2 separate regions of the Homo sapiens genome follow, and region 1 is linked to region 2. A link means that fine-mapping ties the variant in region 2 to the expression of a gene that starts in the linked region. Tissue or cell type: whole blood. Region 2 holds a variant in brackets; the other region holds the start of a gene. All regions are shown on one strand. Distances are from middle to middle.

Region 1 (10,917 bases), 34 kb after region 2:
TAGGAGGGACTTGAATCTGCCAGGAAGCGGAACAAGTAAGTTTTCCAAAGTCTGTGCAAAAGTTTTGCAGCCACAATTTAACTTGAGCTCAAAACTGTTTTCACACCCTGTAAAAAGAGCAGGTATAGATGAAAGATGAACAATCAGCGATGACCATTAATTATCCCTTCCTATTTCTACGCTCCACAGTGCTGGTGCCATCAGCTCTCTGAGCCCTGGCTCTGTTCTTAATGCATTTTTTTTTCCTTAATATTGGGTGCTGGCCAGGTGCGGTCACTCACGCCTGTAATCCCAGCACTTCGGGAGGCCAAGACAGGCAGATCACTTGAGGTCAGGAGTTGAAGACCAGCCTGGCAAAAATGGCGAAACCCCATCTCTACTAAAAATGCAAAAATTAGGTAGGCTTGGTGGTGCATGCCTTTAATTCTAGCTACTCAGGAGGCTGAGGCAGGAGAATTGCTTGAGCCCAGGAGATGGAGGTTGCAGTGAGCTGACATCGCGCTACTGTACTCCAGCCTGAGTGAAGGAGTGAGACTGTCTCAAAAAAAAAAAAAAAAAAAAAAAATTGGGTGCTGAGGCCAAACTGACTAGCTTGTATTCTACTAATAATCTTCCAAGAGCTGTGCTATATAGTTTTATTTTCTTTTAGCCTTCTTTTTATTTAGAATTATAGTTCCTAACTTTTCAAAATTACTCTTTGCAAACATTTTCCTTCCTTTTAAGATGAAAAGGGAACTTTATCCTGATGTTAGGATTGATCATATAATCTGCATTAAAAAAAAAAAAAAAAAAAAAAAAACTCCAACCGGGCGCGGTGGCTCACACCTGTAGTCCTAGCACTTTGGTAGGCCAAGGCGGATGGATCACCTGAGGACCGGAGTTCCAGACAAGCCTGGCCAACACGGCGAAACCCCTTCTCTACTAAACATAAAAAAATTAGCTGGGCATTGTGGTGGGCACTTATAATCCCAGCTACTCAGGAGGCTGAGGCAGGAGAACTGCTTGAACCCAAGGAGCAGAGGTTGCAGTGAGGCAAGATCCTGCCACTGCACTCCAGCCTGGGTGACAGAGCGAGACTCAGTCTCAAAAAAAAAAAAAAAAAGTCCTCCCAAAATAGCTTTTCAGAAATATGTGACTGCCAAAGTACAGTACAGTAAACCTCTCCACACATGGCTGAATAAACTCTTACAGAACATTGTGGAGAAGAATTTAGATTGGGATGTCAATGTCCTGCCTAGTTAATTAGAGTGTATATACTTCCTTTAGTAGAATAGTGTGTTCTTTTGCAATGATATGTTTCTGAAAGAGGATCTTTAAACAGCACAAGGATTCATTGTTTTCTATTCCTTAATGATTTGGGAAGAACAAATTGTTAATCTATGTAGGCCAAGAATGTTTTCTTAGCATGCCTTGTTTTATGCATTAATTATTCTTTAGTTATTTATTTAGTTTGATTCCTTCCAGGACTGATTTCTTCTTAACAAAAGGACAAATACTAATTCAAATCACTTTGGAAATGACCTAAAAGTCATCAGAAATATCTTGAGTGGAGTTAACACAGTATATAGAACTGTTCAGGAAGTTTTCCTAATTAGTAAACCAGTCTCTTTTCATGTCCTTTGTAGGGACATGGATGAAATTGGAAATCATCATTCTCAGTAAACTATCGCAAGAACAAAAAACCAAACACCGCATATTCTCACTCATAGGTGGGAACTGAACAATGAGAACACGTGGACTCAGGAAGGGGAACATCACACTCTGGGGACTGTTGTGGGATGGGGGGAGTGGGGAGGGATAGCATTGGGAGATATACCTAATGCTAGATGACGAGTTAGTGGGTGCAGCGCACCAGCATGGCACATGTATACATATGTAACTAACCTGCACATTGTGCACATGTACCCTAAAACTTAAAGTATAATAATAAAAAAAAATCTGTGAAGAACAGAGACAGGTAACTTCAGAGATCTTATCTCTGTAAACCTTACATTATTATTATCTGGCATAAACTTACAACAAAAAAACAAACAAACAAACAAAATCCCACCCAGAAAACTTCACTATCCCCATCCTACTCTGCATTGTTATAGTAAGAATTATTGGTAGATGTAGCTGCAGGCACTAGCAAATTACCTTCTCAGAGGACAACCCAGAAAAAACTAGCTACAAAGTGCCCTAGCAAAGTGCCCAATCTTCAGGTTTTGAAGGACTACTGTGTTGCTGCTGTTGTGTGTGTGTGTGTGTGTGTGTGTGTTTGCTAGCAACTTATCAGATTTCCTAAGATTTTCCAAAAAAAAAATGATTTTTAAGTAGCATTTGATAAACACGTCTAAATTAATTATGAAGAGAACTAGGTGGTAAGGATCCTAAAACAGTGGAATGTGTTCCTGAGAGTGACAACAGAATCAGCTACCCAGCCTTTAAAAGGAGAATTTATATCCTTTTAATAACAGTATTAATAATAGTAGGGTGATTCAGGGGAAGTCCTTCAAGAGACAAAGTAATGCAGAGTGACCACTCCAAGTTTCTTTGAATATAAAATTCCATAACAAATGACCTTATTTTTCTTAAAATTGTTCACACATAGTGCAAGGCCTGGGGTTTTTAATTTATTAACAATCTTAAAAAGTCTGTTTAGTTCCTTCTAAACAACAGTTAGCGAGCTTTAGTAAGGCAGAAGTCTGGAAATTGTTCTTCAGCTAGGGGCCAGGCCTTGTACACCTGGTTTCTGAACAATGTGAACTTCAACAATGTGAACAACGTGAACCTCAGTGGAACTGTAAACGTTACCAAATAGAAAAACTGCTATGACCCAATTTCTCTGTACACATGTACCATTTACTTTACAGCCTTGGAGCCTGATAAATAGGAAGTGTCTCATCCTGTTTTCTGGGTTGGCAGTGTTTGCCATGCAGGTAGAATACATGCAGGTCAAATCTCATATTGTGCTAAATCACAGCATTCTGAAAAACTTGGGACCTTGCAAAAGGCCATATCTCAGAAAAGTTACTGCTTCAAATAAATGTGCCATTTTACAAAATTATACCTACTGTATCAGAAAAAAAAAATGTTCTCTCATGTGAGTGACATTTATATGACTGCCATTTGTAGGGAATAGGACATTCTCACATAGCAAGGCTGAAGAATGGTTTTGAAAGCTGAGAGTATTCTCTGAATGATAAATGTGGCAGAACTTTAAGATGCTCCTGTGGGAAGAGACTCTTCCCCCGACAACTGGAGAGTTTCCTTATAAAAATGGAACATGCATTATTATGAAAAAAGTAACCACTGAATTATAGTTGTAGCATTAAGGAGATTTTCTATGTATTTCAAACTTGCAGGCATCTTTAGTCACGGCTTTTCACCTTGTTAGAGTTGAACTTTCTGGATCATCTGGCCCAGTAGCCAGCCTTTTATTTTACATCTGTGGAAACTGAGGCTGAGATAATGAGGTTCTAGTTATTATAGAACTAGGAATAGTATTCTTCCTCCCCTCCCCCATTCTCTATCCAATTCACTTTCTCAGCTCACTGCAACCTCCACCTCCCAGGTTCAAGTGATTTTCCTGTCTCAGCCTCCTGTGTAGCTGGGATTACAGGCACCTGCCACCACGCCTGGCTAATTTTTGTATTTTTAGTAGAGACTGGGTTGCACTATGTTGGCCAGGCTGGTCTCGAACTCCTGACCTCAAGTGATCCATCGGCCTTGGCCTCCCAAAGTGTTGGGATAACAGGCTTGAGCCACCGTACCCAGCCTCAGTACACCAATCTTTTAAAGAAAGTTCCTAAATTACCATCTAGAGGTGGGAAAAAGAATAATAAAATTCTGTCTCTGGACAAACAAACGGAACTGAGGCTTTATTTACTCTTCACAATAAATTATATTCTGAACAATCTTCCTCCAGAAAAATAACCTTTAAATTGCAAGAGGAAATTTAAATCAAGATAAAAAAATGGAAGTGGTTGCAGGTATCAGGACAAATTTTTAGTGCCTGGTCAAGAAGCAGCCTCGGATCTGAGACCTTGGAGACTGACTGCTAAAGCCACATTCTTCCAGCCTACTTTTTGATGGGCGCCCCAAGAGTGCGCCAATCCAGAAGTAAGATGCAGAGAAGAATCTAACCCCTTAATTTTCCCCCTTTGGGCTTGTCTGCACCCTGGGGTAGGGATGAGCCTTAAACTCCAGGAAGTTAGAAGCTTGCTGAATCGCGGAGCAGCCTCAGGTGACTTTCCTCTAAAGTGATGCCGGGGCGCGGCGGGGAGTTTGCAAGCACCTGTTCTTCAGTGCGATGGGCTGGGGAGTGGGGTCCTAGCAGCAGGGACTGGAGGTGAGCTGAAGCAGATAAGGGACGGGAGCCTTGTGGCGAAAAGTGACCCACCTGAGGGAGAGGCGCTTCCAAGGAGGAAGCGTCCAGCGCCAACGGTGCGCGCCGCGGGCCGGGCGGGTAGAGGGAAGTTTCGCCGCGCCTGCAGCTCAGCGCTGTGGCTTGTGGCTCTCGCTGCTATAAGAAGCCAGAGAAGGGCGGGACGGTCTGCTGGATTTCGCAAGAGAAGCGGAAAAGAACTTGTTTCCTGGAAGAGTTCAAGCTGAGAATCCCAGCAGCTGGAAGGACCGGAACTTCTATACTGCGGTGCTGCTGATGGTGCCGCTGACCCCCGGGAAGCGGGGATTTTAAGGGTTACACCCGAGCCCTTGGCATCTGTGCATCCCAGGGTGATTGAGGTTTGGAGAGGTCTAGGAATCCCCCTTTCCTAAAGGAGCAAGAAGGATCTCTTTGAGTAGCTGAGAAAACAGCACCTGGACTAGGCTTCTAGGCAATTCTTTTGCCATCTTGTCTCAGTTTATAGAAAAGGTGGTATCTTTCCCCTCCGCCTGGAAGCCATGGGTTCTTATGGGGCTCATAACTTGGAAGATCTTGAGTTTTCAGGTCTTAATTTAGGTAGATTAAAGAAATAAAACAAATGAAAGAGGGATCGGGATACCTTATGATATACATGCAAATGTGTCTTTCTACAGAGAAGGTCAAAAACCACAGCCCTGGTTGTTTAAGATTGAAATAATCCTGATAAACTATGGGGCAAAGCATCCATACACTCCCAAACTCTGTAATCTAAATCCCAGAGTCTTCCCAATGATCTCCACTCAGCCATGGGTCTTAAATTCCACAGCATACGCTTGCCAAGCTCCAGAGGCCCGGCCACATGGGAGGCCTGTTCCTCCCATGGAAAGGGGTTGTTGAGTCAACCTTCCCTTTGTCTGGATTGCAACTCTCCTCATAGCTTCTTGTGGGGTTGGTCAGACCCCATGTCTTTCAAGAGGTCTTTTCTTAGCCATTAGTTGCAATTAATATTTTCTTTCTCTATACAGTAGTTTATACTTTTAGCACAGCAATTAAGACAATTTGCCTTTCAAAAGAGTTATTATCATGTGTGTGTGTCTTGTCCTGGACTGCAGTCTTCGAGGGATGACACCCTAGTTTTTTCAGTCTGGAATTTTCCATAACACCTAGCAAAATGCATTACTTAACAATGGGGATTTATTCTGAGGAATGCCTCATTAAGCAATTTATTAAATATATTCTGAGGAATGTCTCATCAAGCAATTTCGTCATTGTGTGAACATCATAGAGTGCACTTACACAAACCTAGATGGTATCACCTACTACAGGCCTAGGCTAGATGGTATATAGCCGATTGCTCCTAGTCTACAAACCTGTTCAGTATGCTACTTTTCTGAATACTGTAGTCAGTTGTAACACAATGGTAAGTATTTGTGTATCTAAGCATAGAAAAGGTATAGTAAAAATGTGGTATAAAAGATAAAAAATGGTATACCTGTATGGAACACTTACCATGAATGGAGCTTACAGGACTGGAAGTTGCTCTGGGTGAGTAAGTGAGAGAGTGTGAAGGCCTAGGATATTACTATACACTACTGTAGACTTTATAAACACTACATTTAGGCTATGCTATTATAAGAAATATTTTTCTTCCTTCAATAGTAAATTACCCTTAGCTTTCTGTAACATTTTTACTTTTTAAACTTCTAAGTTTTAAAAAACTTTTTGAGTTTTGTAATAACGCAGCTTAAAACACATATTGTACAGTGTGTACAAATAGTTTTTGTCTTTATATCCTTATTCGATAAGCTTTTGTCCCGTTTTTAAAAGTTTTAATTTTTTTGCTAAAAATGAAGACACAAACACACATATTAGCATAGACCTACACAGAATCAAGATATGTGATATCACTGTCTTCCACCTGTATGTCTTTTGTTACTGAAAGGTCCTCAGGGGCAGTAACATGCATGGAGCTGTCTTCTGTGGTAGCAATGCCTTTTTCTGGAATATCTGCTGAAAGACCTTCCTGAGGCTGTTTTACAGTTAACTTTTTAAAAAATACAAGTAGAAGGAGTACACTCAAAAATAATTTAAAAGGTACATATAATAAATACATAAGCCAGTAACATAGCTATTTATTATCATTATCAAGTATTATATACTGTACATAATTGTACATGCTATACTTCTATATGACTGGCAGCATAGTAGGTTTCTTTACACCAGCATCACCACAAATGTGAGTAATGTATTGCTCTGTGATGTTATGACAGCTACAGTGTCCCTAGGCAAGAGGAATTTTTCAGCTCCATTATAATTTTATGAGACCGTTATTATATATGCAGTGCATCATTGACCGAAACATTGTTAGGTGGTGCGTGAGTGTAATTGGTACTGAATATTTATTGCACTCATTAATTAATAAATCTACTGCCAATTATTATATTTTGCAAAAAATTCATCCGATAGTATTCTTTGGCCAGGGAAGAACTTAAAATATTCATTGATTTTATAGCATCTGATTTTCCCAGTTTGCAGACTAATAGGCAAGAGAGGGGTGTGCACCCATGGAAGAAGGTCCGCTGCGTGTCCCTAAGAGTCTTCATAGATGGTCAACACAGTTTTGGAGACTTGCCCTTTGTCTACCATTTGGTTTTAAGCCTTGATGGGCACAGAAACTTGATAAGCACACTGAGCCTGAAACAACCAAAATGGTGACTTGTTAGTTGTTAATGGAATATAAAGCAAATAGTTATTGTAAAAATACAGTTGCTAAGGGCACCAGACATTATGGCCATCACATTCTCTCCATGTAGACATATCCTGTGGAAGCTATTTTATATGCAGAAGGCTGCTGGATAAACAGACGAGTGAGTTATAAAATTCCAAGGTTTACTGACATCTGGTTAAGAGAGTAGCTATATCGATGCATGCCATTTAGAAGCAGAAGCTGGGGTCTATGGACCAGGTCACTCTGGTTTCTAGGTGGTGTTTGGATCCATTATGAGTTGACATAATGGACAACCATATTCTCGAATGCATCCTCTGAGTAATAACAGAATCATTGCTTTATAAACTTATTATTATTAGGTAGATAAAAAATTTTGAAATGTGATTTTTATGAGAGGCAGATATATTTCAGTTATGCAAGTTCTTTTCTTTGCCAAAGGCAACTGGAGTCCTAGAAAAGGAAGATTAAATTACTGGGATATGAAGGATGGAAAAAAAATGCCTTTATTAGTGCAAAACTTAAGAGGCATTTGACGTATTTATCTTGTGGTTTAAAGATTGATTTTCCCCTTGGGCCTAGGAGGGACACACAGTTCATAACTCTCCTAGTCTTTCCGTAAACCCTTGCCATAGGGGAAAATTAAGCTTCCCAAAGATGCCAGCAACCTGAGTACCCAAGGACTTCCTGTGGGCAGGATTCATCTTTCTTCCTGTAGTTTTATACTCAGAGCTCCAGATAAACCTTCCCAGATGTTGTGCACCACCAAATTGTTCTTATTTAGGGATTTCCACATTTACTGTGCCCCTGAGTCTTTCCTGCTACTTCCTCTCTCCTCATCCTACTATGTCAAAGGCCCCAAATGGTAGAATTTAGGCAAACTGATGAAGTAGGCCTAGAGCCAGTGTTCATTAAATGTTATTAAGTGATTGAAAAAAAGTTACCCTTAACATTTTGTATCTCCCTTTCAATGCCATTTTTCTCCTTTTCTGGGGCTCCCCTCTGCACTATCTTGTGTCTTGGGCATTTATCCCTCTTCCGCAAGTCCTCTCCTTACAGTGTTCCACACCTTCTTATTGGGGTGGGGTGGAGCTTTCAACACGTGCTGGACCAGGAGGTGACTGACTTGATAGTCTATAATTAGCATGTGTATGCGAATCTTTTATTGACTTAAAGATTTGCCCTCTAGCTGTTTTTGAAAAAAAAATTTTTTTTGAAGGACTCCTAGAGATGTCTCTGTCTAACCCCCAGAAATGAATCTCTATGGCAGGGATTTCAGGCGCTCTGGGAGATATATTTGAATATTGGTGTAAGGAATATTTTGTCTTTTGCTTACCTAGCATCCAGGACCAGGACTAAGTGAGGTGAATGAGGAGGCTAGGACACCAAATCTGTGGAGGTGCTCACTCAAAACCCAGTCTGCACGAACCTGAAAATAAATGACTTCTTAAATGTTTTTCCTTTGGTGCCTTCCTTGCCTGCTCTAGTCCTGGTCCTGCAGCATCCATTTCTCTTTGCTAATTATATCTTCATTTTCGTTTGATAAACGCCCTTGCACAATCTTGATCCACGTGGTTCAAGTTGAACCAATGGCACTGGGGTTCCAGGATCAGGCACCTGACTTAGACCTGGCCATTCAAAGCACAAAGCCTTGTCCACAGTGATTGGTCCAATGATGGCATGTGACCTGAGTTGGGCCAATAGGAATCTTTCCTGGAACAACCTGGGAAGCAGCACACTCTTTACAGAGGGTTGTCGGACTGCTAAAAAGCAAGCCTGGGTCACTGTGAGGAGAAAGTCAGCCTGAGAAAGAGGCCACTTCAGGGGAAAAGAGAGCAAAGAGATGAGAAGAGACAGATTTCTGCAATTGTTAGAGTGCCATATCTGAAGAAAGCTGTATACTCTGGGCTTTTTAGTGACATGAGTCAGTAATTGAATGTCTGTTATTTGTATAAAATGGGATTGGGTAGGATGAGAAAGGCACCTGCTCAGTCAGACTTCTGTGACTGTAATGCCTACTGAGGTGGCTTCATCACAACATGTGGTCAGAATGAGGAAGGCATGTGTTGTTAAAAAAAGCAAAACAAAGGCCTTTCTGAGTTTTCTTGTAGTAGCTTTGGGACTTGGATAAATAATCAATTTCTGTGACTGAAGTTTTTCAGCTACTTCCTGGTATATTCAGAAATCATTTTCCTGTCTCAGAAAACTTTTTTTCTACTTCTTTCCTATTTTAGTGGGGGTGGACAGATAGAATCCTTCTCCTCCTTTTTCCTGAAACTGCAAAGGGTATAGTGAAGAAGCCAGGCCATTGACCTGGTTTTAACCAATTTCTAGGACTCCTGCCAACACAGACCAGGAAGCAAAACCAAACAACATTTTACTGCCCACCTGCACCCAAAAAAAGTACTGATGGGAAAATACGTCAGACACTGACAGTATTGGAGTCTGGACTAGGGATAATGTCAGGAATGACAATAAAGAACTTAAAAATAAGACCTAAAGAACTTGACTTTAGGTTCAAGAGGAGGTTGAAGAGAAGAGTTGAGTATGTGGGATAAGTGAATAATAATATTTTAAAACATCACTGACAAAGCCTAGAAGTGACAGACAGTTGCAGCTACTTCTGGGAATTGAAAATAGGCAAGGAAACCCTTTCCTCTTTATCTGGGTCTCTGATTCCCTGGGTCACAAGGTCTGTGTTAATTTTGGAAGCTTCTAAGGCACTGGCAGGGCTATGGACTGACTATCACCAATAGGAATCTGGAGGCGGCCCAAGACCACATCTGCTGACCTCAGAAGAGGTCACTTAAATACGATGTTACCAAAGAACAAGATGTGCAAAATAATTTGAAGAGATGGAGAAATATTTGAGTTAATTTTTTGATAAATGCAGCTGGCATTAATAGAGATGTTCTTTCTGTAATTCAAAAACTGAAGATGTGTCATCTGCTTTCACCCCAGCCTGCTGGTACACGCCATGATATATGAAGCTGCTAGCAGAGCTATGAATCAATAGTTGATTGGTAGTTACTGTTAGTACTGGAAGTATTATTGGCAACAGCAATTCCAGTCCAGGCAATTTGTGCCTAGTGCCAGTAAAGGAAGGTTAGTTAGATTTTTCACATGCTAAAGAGGAGACAAAAATAAATTTAAAAATATTAGAGTGAATGAGGTCCTGTTCACTTTCAAATAGAGTTAGCAGGGAAAATAGTATAAAACCAATCACAGGAGGAAAAGCAAAAGAGAAGAATACTGAAAATATGAGGCTATTTTTTTTTCTCCATTTTCTAACTGTAAAGATCAATTACTTGCTAAAAGTTATTTTCTTTTTTGGGGTTTCTTTAAAGATAATTATATATATTATTTTTATACTGGTAGTATTAACTATAGATGATTCTGTAGTACCAAATACAGATGATTTATGTTCACAGAGTGTTTGCTAAACAATTTATTTAGTTACTGTAGATTGTTTTACATTATATAACACTTTAGTTTAAATAATTAACTAAAATATTTAAACAATTAATGCAAAATTCAAGATATAAATGGGGTATGTTGAAAAGCTGTTTTCTGCAGACATTGAGCTCCCTTGTCTGGAGGCAACCACGTTGATGATTTATTGGGCTCCTTTCATAGACAGACTATGCATATAAAAGCATATATATTTGTTCTTAAAAATTACAAATGGTGGCCAGGCAAGGTGGCTCATGTCTGTAATCCTAGCACTCTGGGAGGCCAAGGTGAGCCAATCGCTTTAGCCCAGGAGTTCGAGAAAAGCCTGGGCAACATGGTGAGACCCTGTCTCTACAAAAAACAAAAAAACTAGCCAGGTGTGATGGCACGTGCC
Region 2 (10,917 bases):
GAAGATTCTTACTAAAAGCTTTGTGTCTTACTAAAGTAATGAGTCATCTCTCAGCATTTGGGATACTTCATTCTGCAATCCTCGTTCCTCTGCCTCAGATTCAGGGTGGTGGAGGGATTAAATCCATACCTTTTTCTCAGATTCAGCCATTTTCAACTTTTGCTCCCCAAGCATCTTTTCTTCACTATCTCTTTACCATGTTTAGCCCTTCTCTGAGACTAGCAGCTTCATAATGTTCAGTGAAACAGAAATGCATTTTTTTCTTTCGTATGTATTTTTAGACCTTAAGAATCACATATTTTCTTCTCTTTCATAGGTAGGGGATTGGAACTTGGAAAAAGAGATATGCTTCCCTAACACACTCTGTGATGTACATTTGTCACTTATTTATGCTTAACATCTTAGGACATAACAATTGGCGAAACTATCTGTTGAGGATTATATTTGAGTGAAAGGGTTAATAAATGTCATAATTATTATCTAATGTTATTAACAAAAGTTATTTATTTTGCTGCTTTTCTGCCTGTGATGCTTTGTCAGTTAGGTTCTCCAAGAAGCAGGTACCAAGATAGGATGGGAGATTTATTGGAAGAAATGACTTAAAGGATAAAGGAGGAGGGAGCCTTCATATTGCAATGCTGGTCTTACACGTGCAAAAGATGAAGGCAAGGGAAACATTGGATAGGAGGAGATCCAGATCATAGTGCAGATGTGAAAAGGTCTTGGCTGGCCCAGTGGGAACATCCAAGCAAATGCTGCCCATTAGAGGAAGCTCATATGAGGCAATGATCCATTAGAGGAAGCTCATATGAGGCAATGATCCATTAGAGGAAGCTCTTTTGAGGCAATGATGGCTTTGTTCTAGTATCTCTGTTATGCATGGTCATTGCCTGGGAGCAGCCCAAGGGCAATGTGGATCATGTGAATAACGTGGTGCTTATCAATAATGTGGGCCAGTTGAAAGTTGTTTATTTGTTATGTTTCCTTGCAGCAGGTTCTCTTGAAGGAACATCTGAGTAGGTCATCTTCCATGACTGCCACTGATGTCTACTTGGTATTTTTAGCCAGTTTTATAAAAACTATTTTTATTGTAAAATTATTTTATATTAAAGCAGTTTTAACAGTCTTCTTCATATGGGGAAGAATTCCAACAGAGATGAAATAATGGACAACTTTTTGTTGTTGAATATTCCTAAAATGTTTACTAAGACTTTAAATATTATTTTAATGAGAGAACGTTAAAGAAGGGGAAAATGTTGTGTATCATTCTTTAGAATTCCAATAATCACAGTCAGCCTAAATATACCACTAGATAATTCTGTTTCTTTAGTCTCTGTCATGTTTTTTAAAGGCAAAGTACTCATCACAGACTGAAAAGTCCAAAATTGTCACTGGATATACCTGTTTCGGATCAGCCCTTTTGACCCCCATTTTTTTTTGGATCTACAACCAGCTTGTTTTCAACTTAATCACCTGATTTCAAAAGGATCGGAAAAAACCCTAGCCTGAAAATCAGTCATCTGTGGTCCAATTCTGCTTTGTTGCAATGTAGCTATGTGACCTTGCAGAAATTACTTCACCCTCTTGGGTTCAGTTTCCACATCTGTGAAATGAATGTATACTATTAGATAATCTCTAGGCTTCATGTAGTCTAAAAAACACTATAGTTGGAGTTGGAGGTTATGGATAACGTTTCTGTATTTCCTATCAAAAACTAAAATAAAGACATGGAGGCCATGTTTAGGAAATATGTGTAGAGCATATCTTTTGGAAAAGGGAATTAATATTTAAAACAATTTTCTATGCTGAAGGATAGGTTAATTTATATGAGATAAACTTTAATAAGAATATGGTGAGTGCTTTTTTTTAAGTAAACCTTTTATTTTAGAACAATGTTAGGGTCATAGTATTTTAAAATAATTTTAGATTTATAGCATTATTGCAAAGACAGTGCAGATAGTGCAAGATATTTTTGCTTTGTACTTAGGTTTAAAAATATTAATGGTAATCAGTGTAGGGTGGATGGTTTGGTGGTGGAAGGGGGCAGAGATGGGGCTAGAGGGGCAGACTATGGAGAGACTGGAATTAATGCTTTATGTGAAAAGAAATTAGGCATATTATTTGATGTGATCCTGAAATTTTGCGACTATAAAAATTTACAGTGAACATGTACACTAAATTAATAGAGACTCACAAGTTAGAATAACAGAAGCAACAATCACGTTATACTCTAAACCTGCACCTCAACTGGAGTTATATTTTTGATGCCTACTTGCTATTTTTAGCCAGTTTTATAAAAACTATTTTTATTGAAAATTTATTTTATATTAAAGTATTTTAAGTCTTTTTCATATGGGGAAAAATGCCAATACAGATGAAATAATGGACAACTTTTTGTTGTTGAATATTCCTAAAATGTCTACTAGGAATTTAAATACTATTTTAATTACAGAATGTGAAAGAAGGGAAAAATATCATGTTTTTGGTTTAGGGAACTGTGTTTTAAAAGGAACATTGAAATGTTTGTAGATCTGAACAAGAGGCACCAGAAAGATGAAAGATTTAGAAATTTTTATACAAGAGAAAACAGTGAATGTGCTGGTGTTTAGCGTAAGATAAGATTTAGCAGGGATATGCAATCAATTACTTTAAAAAATTTTTTGTTTATAATTTTTTAATTAAAAATTTTTAATTGACACACGATAATTATACATATTTATGGGGTACATAGTGACATTGCAATACACAAAATATACAGTGATCAGATTAGGGTAATTAGTATATCCATCATCTTAAGCATTTATCATTTCTTTCTGTTGAGAACATTCAATATCCTCCTTCTAGCTATTTAGAATATATATTATTGTTAACTGTAGTCATCCTACAGAGCTATAGAACACTACAACTTAATCTTCCTATCTAGCTGTAATTTTGTATCTTTTAACAAATTTCTTCCTATCCCCCATTACCTTTTAAATTAAATTTATTTTAATAATTAGGTAACCTACTCATGTAATTTAAAAACCAAAATGATATGAAAAGGTCTACAGTGCTTCTACTCCTGTCACTACTCCTCTGTTCTCCCATCTTGTTTGGTATGGATCTTTTGAATCCTTCTGAGAGTTTCTTTAGGCAATTAAAAGCAAATACACATATGCAAAAGGAATCATACTATATATGTTATTTTGTACCTTTTTAAAAACTGAACAGTATATTTTGGACATCTTTCCATATATGTGAAAGAAGGTGTCTTGGTTTGTTTTAAACAGCTGCATAGAATTTCATTCTGTGAAAGCATCATAGTTTCCTTAACCAGTCCCAAAGATGAATGCTTGAATCACTGCCCATATTCTACTTTTACAATGTTATTCATGAAAAACAAGAAAAACAAATAGCAATGCTTCTTTTTCATCTCAAATGCTTGTAGGCATATCTATAGCATAAATTCTCAGGAGTGAGACTCCTGGATCAAAACTTAACTCTGCATTTTTTAATTTTGAAAGATATTCCCTAACTGCTCTCCACAGGAGCGGTCCTAATCTGCATATCCAAGAGCAATGTATGTGAACCTACGTTTCCACAGCCTCACCCACAGAATGTGTGCTCAAACATTTGGATTTTTGCCCATCTACTAGGTGAGAAATGGTATTGATACAGTTACAATTTTCATGCGTCTCATTATGAATGAAGTAGAATATATTTTCATATGTTGCAGAGCCTTGTTTCTCCTGTGAACTTTGTTCATACTCTTTGTATAGTTTCCAGCTGGTTGGTGTAGTAGTTGTAGTTGGCACTGCCAACTACGAGTTCCTCTTGGCGGCCACCTCTACAAGCTGAAAGCTGGTGGTATGAATGCTGGTACCTCTTTGCCTGTGGGCCTTTTTCCCCCTAGACATGGTGGCATACACAATAAGTGTGTAGGAAAAGCCAGAAGTGCCACAAAGTTAATGTCTTGGAAGCATCTGTATTCCAATGTTAAGCAAGGATTTGGTGGATGAAAAGCACAGTTTCCTTTCCCCTTGATGGGAATAACTCTTAGTTATATCTGACACTGTCTTCCAGACTTTCCCAGCAAAACTGAGCTCCAGTTGCCCAGATGGGTAACCAGCTTGAAAATTCATACTTTATTCCTTCCCTGCTCTGTCTACTTTACTACTCCATTCCCAGTATCTAATAATTTGATGATTTTTAACTTCCAGTATAAACTCTTTTACAAGAAGCCTTGCCTCAGGATCGGTTTTTAGAAGTGCCAAGCCAAGCCAGGTTGTTAGGCCTACGTTTGAGCACTGTGCAAAGTGTGGTCTGCCCGTGGTGCTGGCTTGTGAGCTGTTTTTTACCAGTCTGTGATAAATTCAGAAATTGGGGTGAAAAGTTTAGAAACTTTTATGGCAATTTGATGTTGCCATCACATTTAAGGGTGTGATTTTGTGTTTTACAGACATATGCATTGATTTGTAATGAACTGGAAAAAAATGAAACAAAAATTACTGGCCCCCATCTCTGATAGTTGGTGAGGCACTGCTTTAAATGATCACACTAAGAAAAATGGGTAGAAGTACAACTAGGGAAACTTTGGTTATCTACAGAGAGAACTCCCTGATAATTTCCTGGAGTGCCTAAAACAAAAGATTTCCTGTTGGTGATGGTCAATACTCCATCATGAGAAGAGTTAAGCCTGTAGAAGGCTAGCTATAACAGACTCTATAGAAAATTCCTGCATTTGGTAGCAGATCTCTTCTGCTTTTTTATTTTCTAAAACTGACAAATAACAGTTGTACATATCCATGAGGTACATAGTCATGTTTATGTATGTACAATGTATAGTGATCAGATCAGTGTAATTAGCATATCCATCATTGCAAACATTTATCATTTCTTTGTGTTGGGAACAGTCAATGTCCTCCTGGCTATTTGAAATTATATGTTATT[T/G]TTAACTATAGTCATCCTACAGAGCTATGGAACACTAAAACTTATTTATTTTGCTGTAATGAAATGAGAACAGGAAGTCTGTCATTCTTTTTCATCTCTATCTTAGCATGAAAGAAAGGATTAGTAAAAATGAAATGAATACACTGGGTGGGCTCCTTCAAAATCTGTTGACTTTCTAAAAATCATAAGGCCAAGTTTAATTCTGGGTTTCTATTTTATCACAATCTGATACTTTTTGATATACAATACTGTGAGTTCCAGTCCAGCAGCCTTTCATTTTCACAAAACTGAGAAAAAAATCTCATTTTTACAGCTATAGGTAATGGAACTAAGCCTGGTGTGTGTGTGTGTGTGTGTGTGTAACCCTAGATTCTTCAACTAGTATTAAAGTACTAAATGAGAAGTGTTATGAAATTTCTTGCATGGGTTACTGGATCTCAAAAACAAATAAGTTCACTCAGTACACAAAGCAATAAGGTGAGAAACCAGGGAAAAAGAAAATATTTGCCTTTAAGCTCTGGAGAAGAGCTATCCTCTCCTTGACTGCCCCTTCGAGTCCTCAGGTCTGGGGATTTTACCTCCCTCCACCAGAACAAAGCTCCCTTTAGAGTTTAGGAAACCTTGTGGCCAGACTAGAGTGGGAAGATTAAAATGGCAATTGCAATGGAATTGAACTTAATGCGGGAACCACAGATCCTGTGTTTCTACAACCTTAGAGGACGAATTGAAATCAGCATAGATAAACCTGGAGTATTGAGGACTGGGCAATCAGGAATATTTAAAATGCGAATAAGCTTCTTGTCTTTAAAAATGTTTTTAAGAAGAGTTGCAGTGGTTTCGTTCACTTAGTCTATTTTGTGGATTCAAAGGGACATTTAAGAGGACAGCATGGGTGTCCCCTATTATATCGTTGTGTTAAAAGGAGATGGGCCTGGAGTCAGACTGCCTAGATCCCAGCTCTGCCTCTCATTAGTTGTGTGAACTTAGTCAAAGTACTGAGATTTCAAAGCTCAGTTTCCTCTTCTGATAAATAAGGATAAGAAGAGAACCTTAGAGAACTGTTATGAGGATTAAATAAGATAATGCATGTGAAATTGTTAGCATAGGCTTTACGCATGGCACTCTGCTGTAAGTATCATTAAAAGCCTTCCAAAATTCCCTTACAGCAGAAAGCAAGTAGTACTGGATCCTTTTGGCTTTTGCTGGGTAATGGCAAGAGCACTGTCTTGCTCTTCCACACTCCCCTTTTCTCAGTCCCTTTGCCCTCAATCCCTTCATCCTTCACCTCCCTCATATGGGTCTTATCCGAAACTTTAGGACTTTGCCTCGAGCTTGAGGAGAGGTAATGCATATGTTACCAGAAAGGGGGTCCAATACAGACCCCAAGAGAGAGTTCTTGGATCTTGCACAAGAAAGAATTTGAGGTGAATCCATAAAATGAAAGCAAGTTTATTAAGACTGTAAAGGAATAAAAGGGCTATTTCATAGGCAGAGCAGTGGCATGGGCTGCCTGGCTGAGTATAGTTATAGTTATTTCTTGATTATATGCTAAACAAGGGATGGATTATTCATGAGATGTTCAGGAAAGGGGCAGATGATTCCCAGAACTGAGGGCTCCTCCTGCTTTTAGAACATATAGGGTAACTTCTGGATGTGGCCATGGAATTTGTAAACTGTCATGGTGCTAGTGGGAGTGTATTTTAGGCTGCTAATATATTATAATTAGCATATAATGAACAGCTGAGACAGCCAAAGATCACTTTCATTGCCATCTTGGTTTTGGTAGGTTTTGGACGGCTTCTTTATTGCATCCTGTTTTATCAGCAAGGTCTTTGTGACCTGTACCTTGTGCTTACTCCTATCTCATCCTGTGACTAAGAACACCTGCTGTCCTGGGAATGCAGCCCAGTAGGTCTCAGTCTTATTTATTTATTTATTTATTTTGAGACGGAGTTTCACTCTTGTCACCCAGGCTGGAGTGCAATGGCGCGATCTTGGCTCATTGTAACCTCTGCTTCCTGGGTCCAAGCACTTCTCCTGCCTCAGCCTCCAGAGTAGCTGGGATTACAGGCATGCGCCACCATGCTGGCTAATTTTTTATATTTTTAGTAGAGATGGGGTTTCACCATGTTGGCCAGGCTGGTCTCAAACTCCTGACCTCAGGTGATCCACCTGACTTGGCCTCCCAAAGTGCTGGGATTACAGGTGTGAGTCACTGCGCCCGGCCAGTCTCAGGCTTATTTTACTCAGCCTCTATTGAAGATGGAGTCACCTGGTCCAAATGCTTCTGATACATTGAAGAGTAACTTATACTCTTTTCCCAAATTCTACTGAACAAACCTTTAGAAGAGTGAAGGATTTTTCTAGAATGTAAACCTAATTCATTATAGAAAATTGAAGTAGGACCCTGTAAGGCTATCTGTGGGCTCTCATGGGGTGTGTGTGTGTGTGTGTGTGTGTGTGTGTGTGTGTTGGAGAAGTGGTAGTGAAGATGATGGTTGTGATGATGGAGAATGAAAATTGCAACTACTGTGTGCAGTACCATGACTGCCATTACACCTTAATTTTGGAACAGAGTTCCAGAAGCTTTTATGCTCTCAGAGGTGAAATGCATAATATGCATTTATCATTATCATGGCTCTTTTGTGATCCCTGAACAATAGATGAATGAAGAGCTCCTGAATGAATTTCTAATTGAAATGGCTTTTTCAGTAGGGGCTTTCCATTTGCTTCCAGCTTCCTCCAGGTTGTCAGTCCTCTCTTTATTTGTAAGTTTTAATACTATTTTTGAAAGCAGGATAACACCCATCAGAGCTGCAGCAGTCCAGTTGTGCAAGGCATTTAATGCCCAGTCACGCAGTCTGAATCCAACCTGAAGTCTGCTTGTCAAGCCATTAGCCTTATCCCTGTGGCGTCTGCATGGAGAAGGAAAGCCTTTTTTACCTCCAAATTCTCACAAAAATCCAGCGTGGGATAGTGCAGTCCTCCCCATTTAGCCATCTGATGCTCTCCCCTCTCTGAGGGTAATACTGAAGCACACACAGCATACTGGACTGTGCCACCCCGCTGAGCTCAAGCTTACATTGCAAGAAGCTGCAGATCTGTTAATGCACTTTCAAACCCATGCACTGCCTTCTCTTTTGCTTATCCCTGAAGGGAAGTATTTTTAGTCCCAGATGCTGGAACTACTGTGATTCAAAACCTTTTAGTAACTTTATTTGGAATGCTGATGAGTTAAAACCAGAATTAAACAAAACTAGGAAATATTTTTAAAGTAACATTTAATGAATACACATTTATAAAAGCCATCATCCCTTAACATGGGGAAAGTGTACAAAAATAATGTGAAAGTGTAAAAATTTTTCTAGAATACAGGAAACATATCAGCAGTAAAGAAGTTTAGTTTAACTTTTTTTTTAAATGTAAAATAGTTTGGATCTGTTAAAAGGAATACAGTTCGCCCAAAGCACTTATTTTCATCTGTTGTAAACTCATTCTTTCTACCTTAAGTAAACTGGAGGAGTCAGCTGTGTTAATATGGTCAAATTAATTTCATAGTTTTGGGAGCAGGGAGGTTGTGGGAAGGACAGAAGGAGAACTTGGGCTTTCTTTGGTCAGCTGGTGGGGCTTGGAGCACTTGTGGTTGGGGCCAAAGGTCAGGTCTGGAAATGCAGCTATTATGCCAAAACCATCAGAGTGCTCTTTAGCTTCAGGCTTCATGAATTGCTTTTAACTACTCAGGTAGAGCATTTTTACTAGGCTATAAAAGTAGAGTTCATTTTTTTCTATAGGTCAGCATTTTACCTATGGATGGCATTTTCTATTTTCGGTGACGGACTATGAGCCAGGATAAACACATTACTCTCTTCTTTAACAAAAAGAGCATGGTTAACTCCAAAGACTTCTCTAGACCAGCCTGGATGGTACCTAAACTTTAATCAACCAATGCTCAAGTAAAAGAGCAGTATCCAGCCCCAGCACACCTAACTGTTTTGCATAACATAGGTGAGTAGTGACATTTTCCTTATCTTTTCCACTGATACTGTAGGGTCAGCACCGTATACCATGACTCTACTCAATGTCGTCCAACTTTTTGTATCCTTGCTTGGGTTTATCAAAGATAAGTTGAAGGAGCGTGTGTTCTGTGTACCTTTGCAACCAGTTATAAATAAACGCAAATTGAAATAAAAAAGACAATCTACAATGGTGCGATGAAAGCAACACCCTCATCCAATGGTAATTAAATTGATAAGGTCACTTTAGAAATGGCTTGGCAACATTATCAGTGCAAAGATATTATCTGAAATGTTATTTATTTTAGTAAAAAATGGATATAGTCTACATGTTTAATAAGGAAAGAGGTTTGAAAAATGCCTATTTGATGTGATATTATGCAGCCATTAAGAAAATATATTACGTAAGGCCAGATTCATGCCTGTAATCCCAGTGCTTTGTGAGGCGGAGGCAGGCAGATCACTTGACGCCAGCATTTCAAGACCAGCCTGACCAATGTGGTGAAACCCTGTCTCTACTAAAAGTACAAAAATTAGCTGGGCATAGTGGCACATGCCTGTAGTCCCAGCTACTCGGGAGGCTGATGAACAAGAATCACTTGAACCTGGGAGGAGGAGGTTGCAGTGAGCTGAGATCGTGCCACTGCACTCCAGCCTGAGCGACAGAGCAAGACTGTCTCAAAAAAATAAAAAAGAAAAAAATAATAAAAAGGAAAACAAAGCCTTTAGAAAAACAAAGCCTTTGAAAAAGGATGTAAAATTGAATATATAGATACAATTATTTTTAAAAAGTTTTATAGAAAAATATCCTGGATTGTTGATGTTGTTTTAATATATTTTAATCATTTTTGTATAATGTCATGTATAATATGTTATAATGAAAGTAAAAAAAAAAAAAGGTCTTAGCAGAGCAGGCAGAAAAATGCCAAACTCAGTGCCTTTTAGTTATTTTGATATGTGGGAAGATCATGCATAAGGCTCCTTTTAGCTCATTGCTTGAGCTAGGAAGGTTAATCCCCCTGAAGGTCACCTTGGAAAGGGTACTATCAGCACAGAAAAACAGTGAGAACCATCCTAAATTTCAGCAAGGATTTGAGAAAGATCCAAATTTCACATAATGATGAATCTTCACACCTCTCTGCCCTATGATTTTCCGTAATTTTCGATCATCTATGCATTGTTCAAATTTATACCTGCAGACTATTCATTTAATTTTACTCCTTACAATTATAATAGACTAAGACAGATATAGAAGCTACTTATTTACACTAGAAATTAATTTAATAGATGAAAAATATTGAGCAATATTTGGAATATAAAATTTACAAAGCATATTATAATACCTAAATAATACTTAACCTAATATAGTGCAATTTTACAATATTTATTTAGCTTGCTGTCTAAAATTCTGGTTTCTTTGAACTTTTTGATCAAGAACTTTTATCAACCCTTCTTTGCTTATTGCACAATGCAAGTGAAATCCAAGGGGATATCCCTCCATTTTTATTCAGTCTTTCCTATACCTATTCTTTATAGAGGAAGAATTACATGCCAGCTCTATAGATACGTATGTATCCAAGACATGGATACTTTTAATCAATTGTAAATTTTTCTTGTGTTATAAAAATAGTTCCTCTCAGTAAATATCTGTATTAAGAAAAGCAAAGTCAAGGGGTCATTTCACTAGAATTCATCATGGTAATATTTATGTTTGCCTTTACTTCCAAAAAACAACAAAAACCTCATTCCCTTTTTACATTTCATGTGACCCACTTCCTCAGATATACCTAATAAAGCCTTTATCAGTGGTCACCATTGTGCTGTTTTTCCTTTCACTTAACTCAGCCCTTGAGCCAGAGAAGGAAGCTGCAATACTTCTATTGGATTTTGCAAGACATTAGGTCATGCATGTTGCCCATAACAAGGAAACTCTTTAGTGTGAAACCACAAGGCTAGTCTCAATCTCAGCTCCATG

Evidence for each region. PIP is the estimated chance that this variant, and not a neighbour inherited with it, causes the effect.
Region 1: STEAP4 starts here. The variant in region 2 is fine-mapped to the expression of STEAP4 in whole blood (TOPMed, PIP 0.95).

The regions. Positions count from the first base shown.
Region 1 is chr7:88,302,411-88,313,327 of GRCh38, forward strand. It overlaps STEAP4 (STEAP4 metalloreductase), which reads right to left and starts at 4,484. Exons shown (of 5, transcript NM_024636.4): 1 at 4,382-4,484. All of the region lies in intron 1 of LOC124901692 (a long non-coding RNA gene), which reads left to right.
Region 2 is chr7:88,268,236-88,279,152 of GRCh38, forward strand. STEAP4 (STEAP4 metalloreductase) reads right to left here. Exons shown (of 5, transcript NM_024636.4): 5 at 2,657-10,917. Among named protein-coding and RNA genes, the nearest start is that of STEAP4, 33 kb to the right of the region's middle. The variant T/G (reference allele first, on the strand shown) is at 4,930.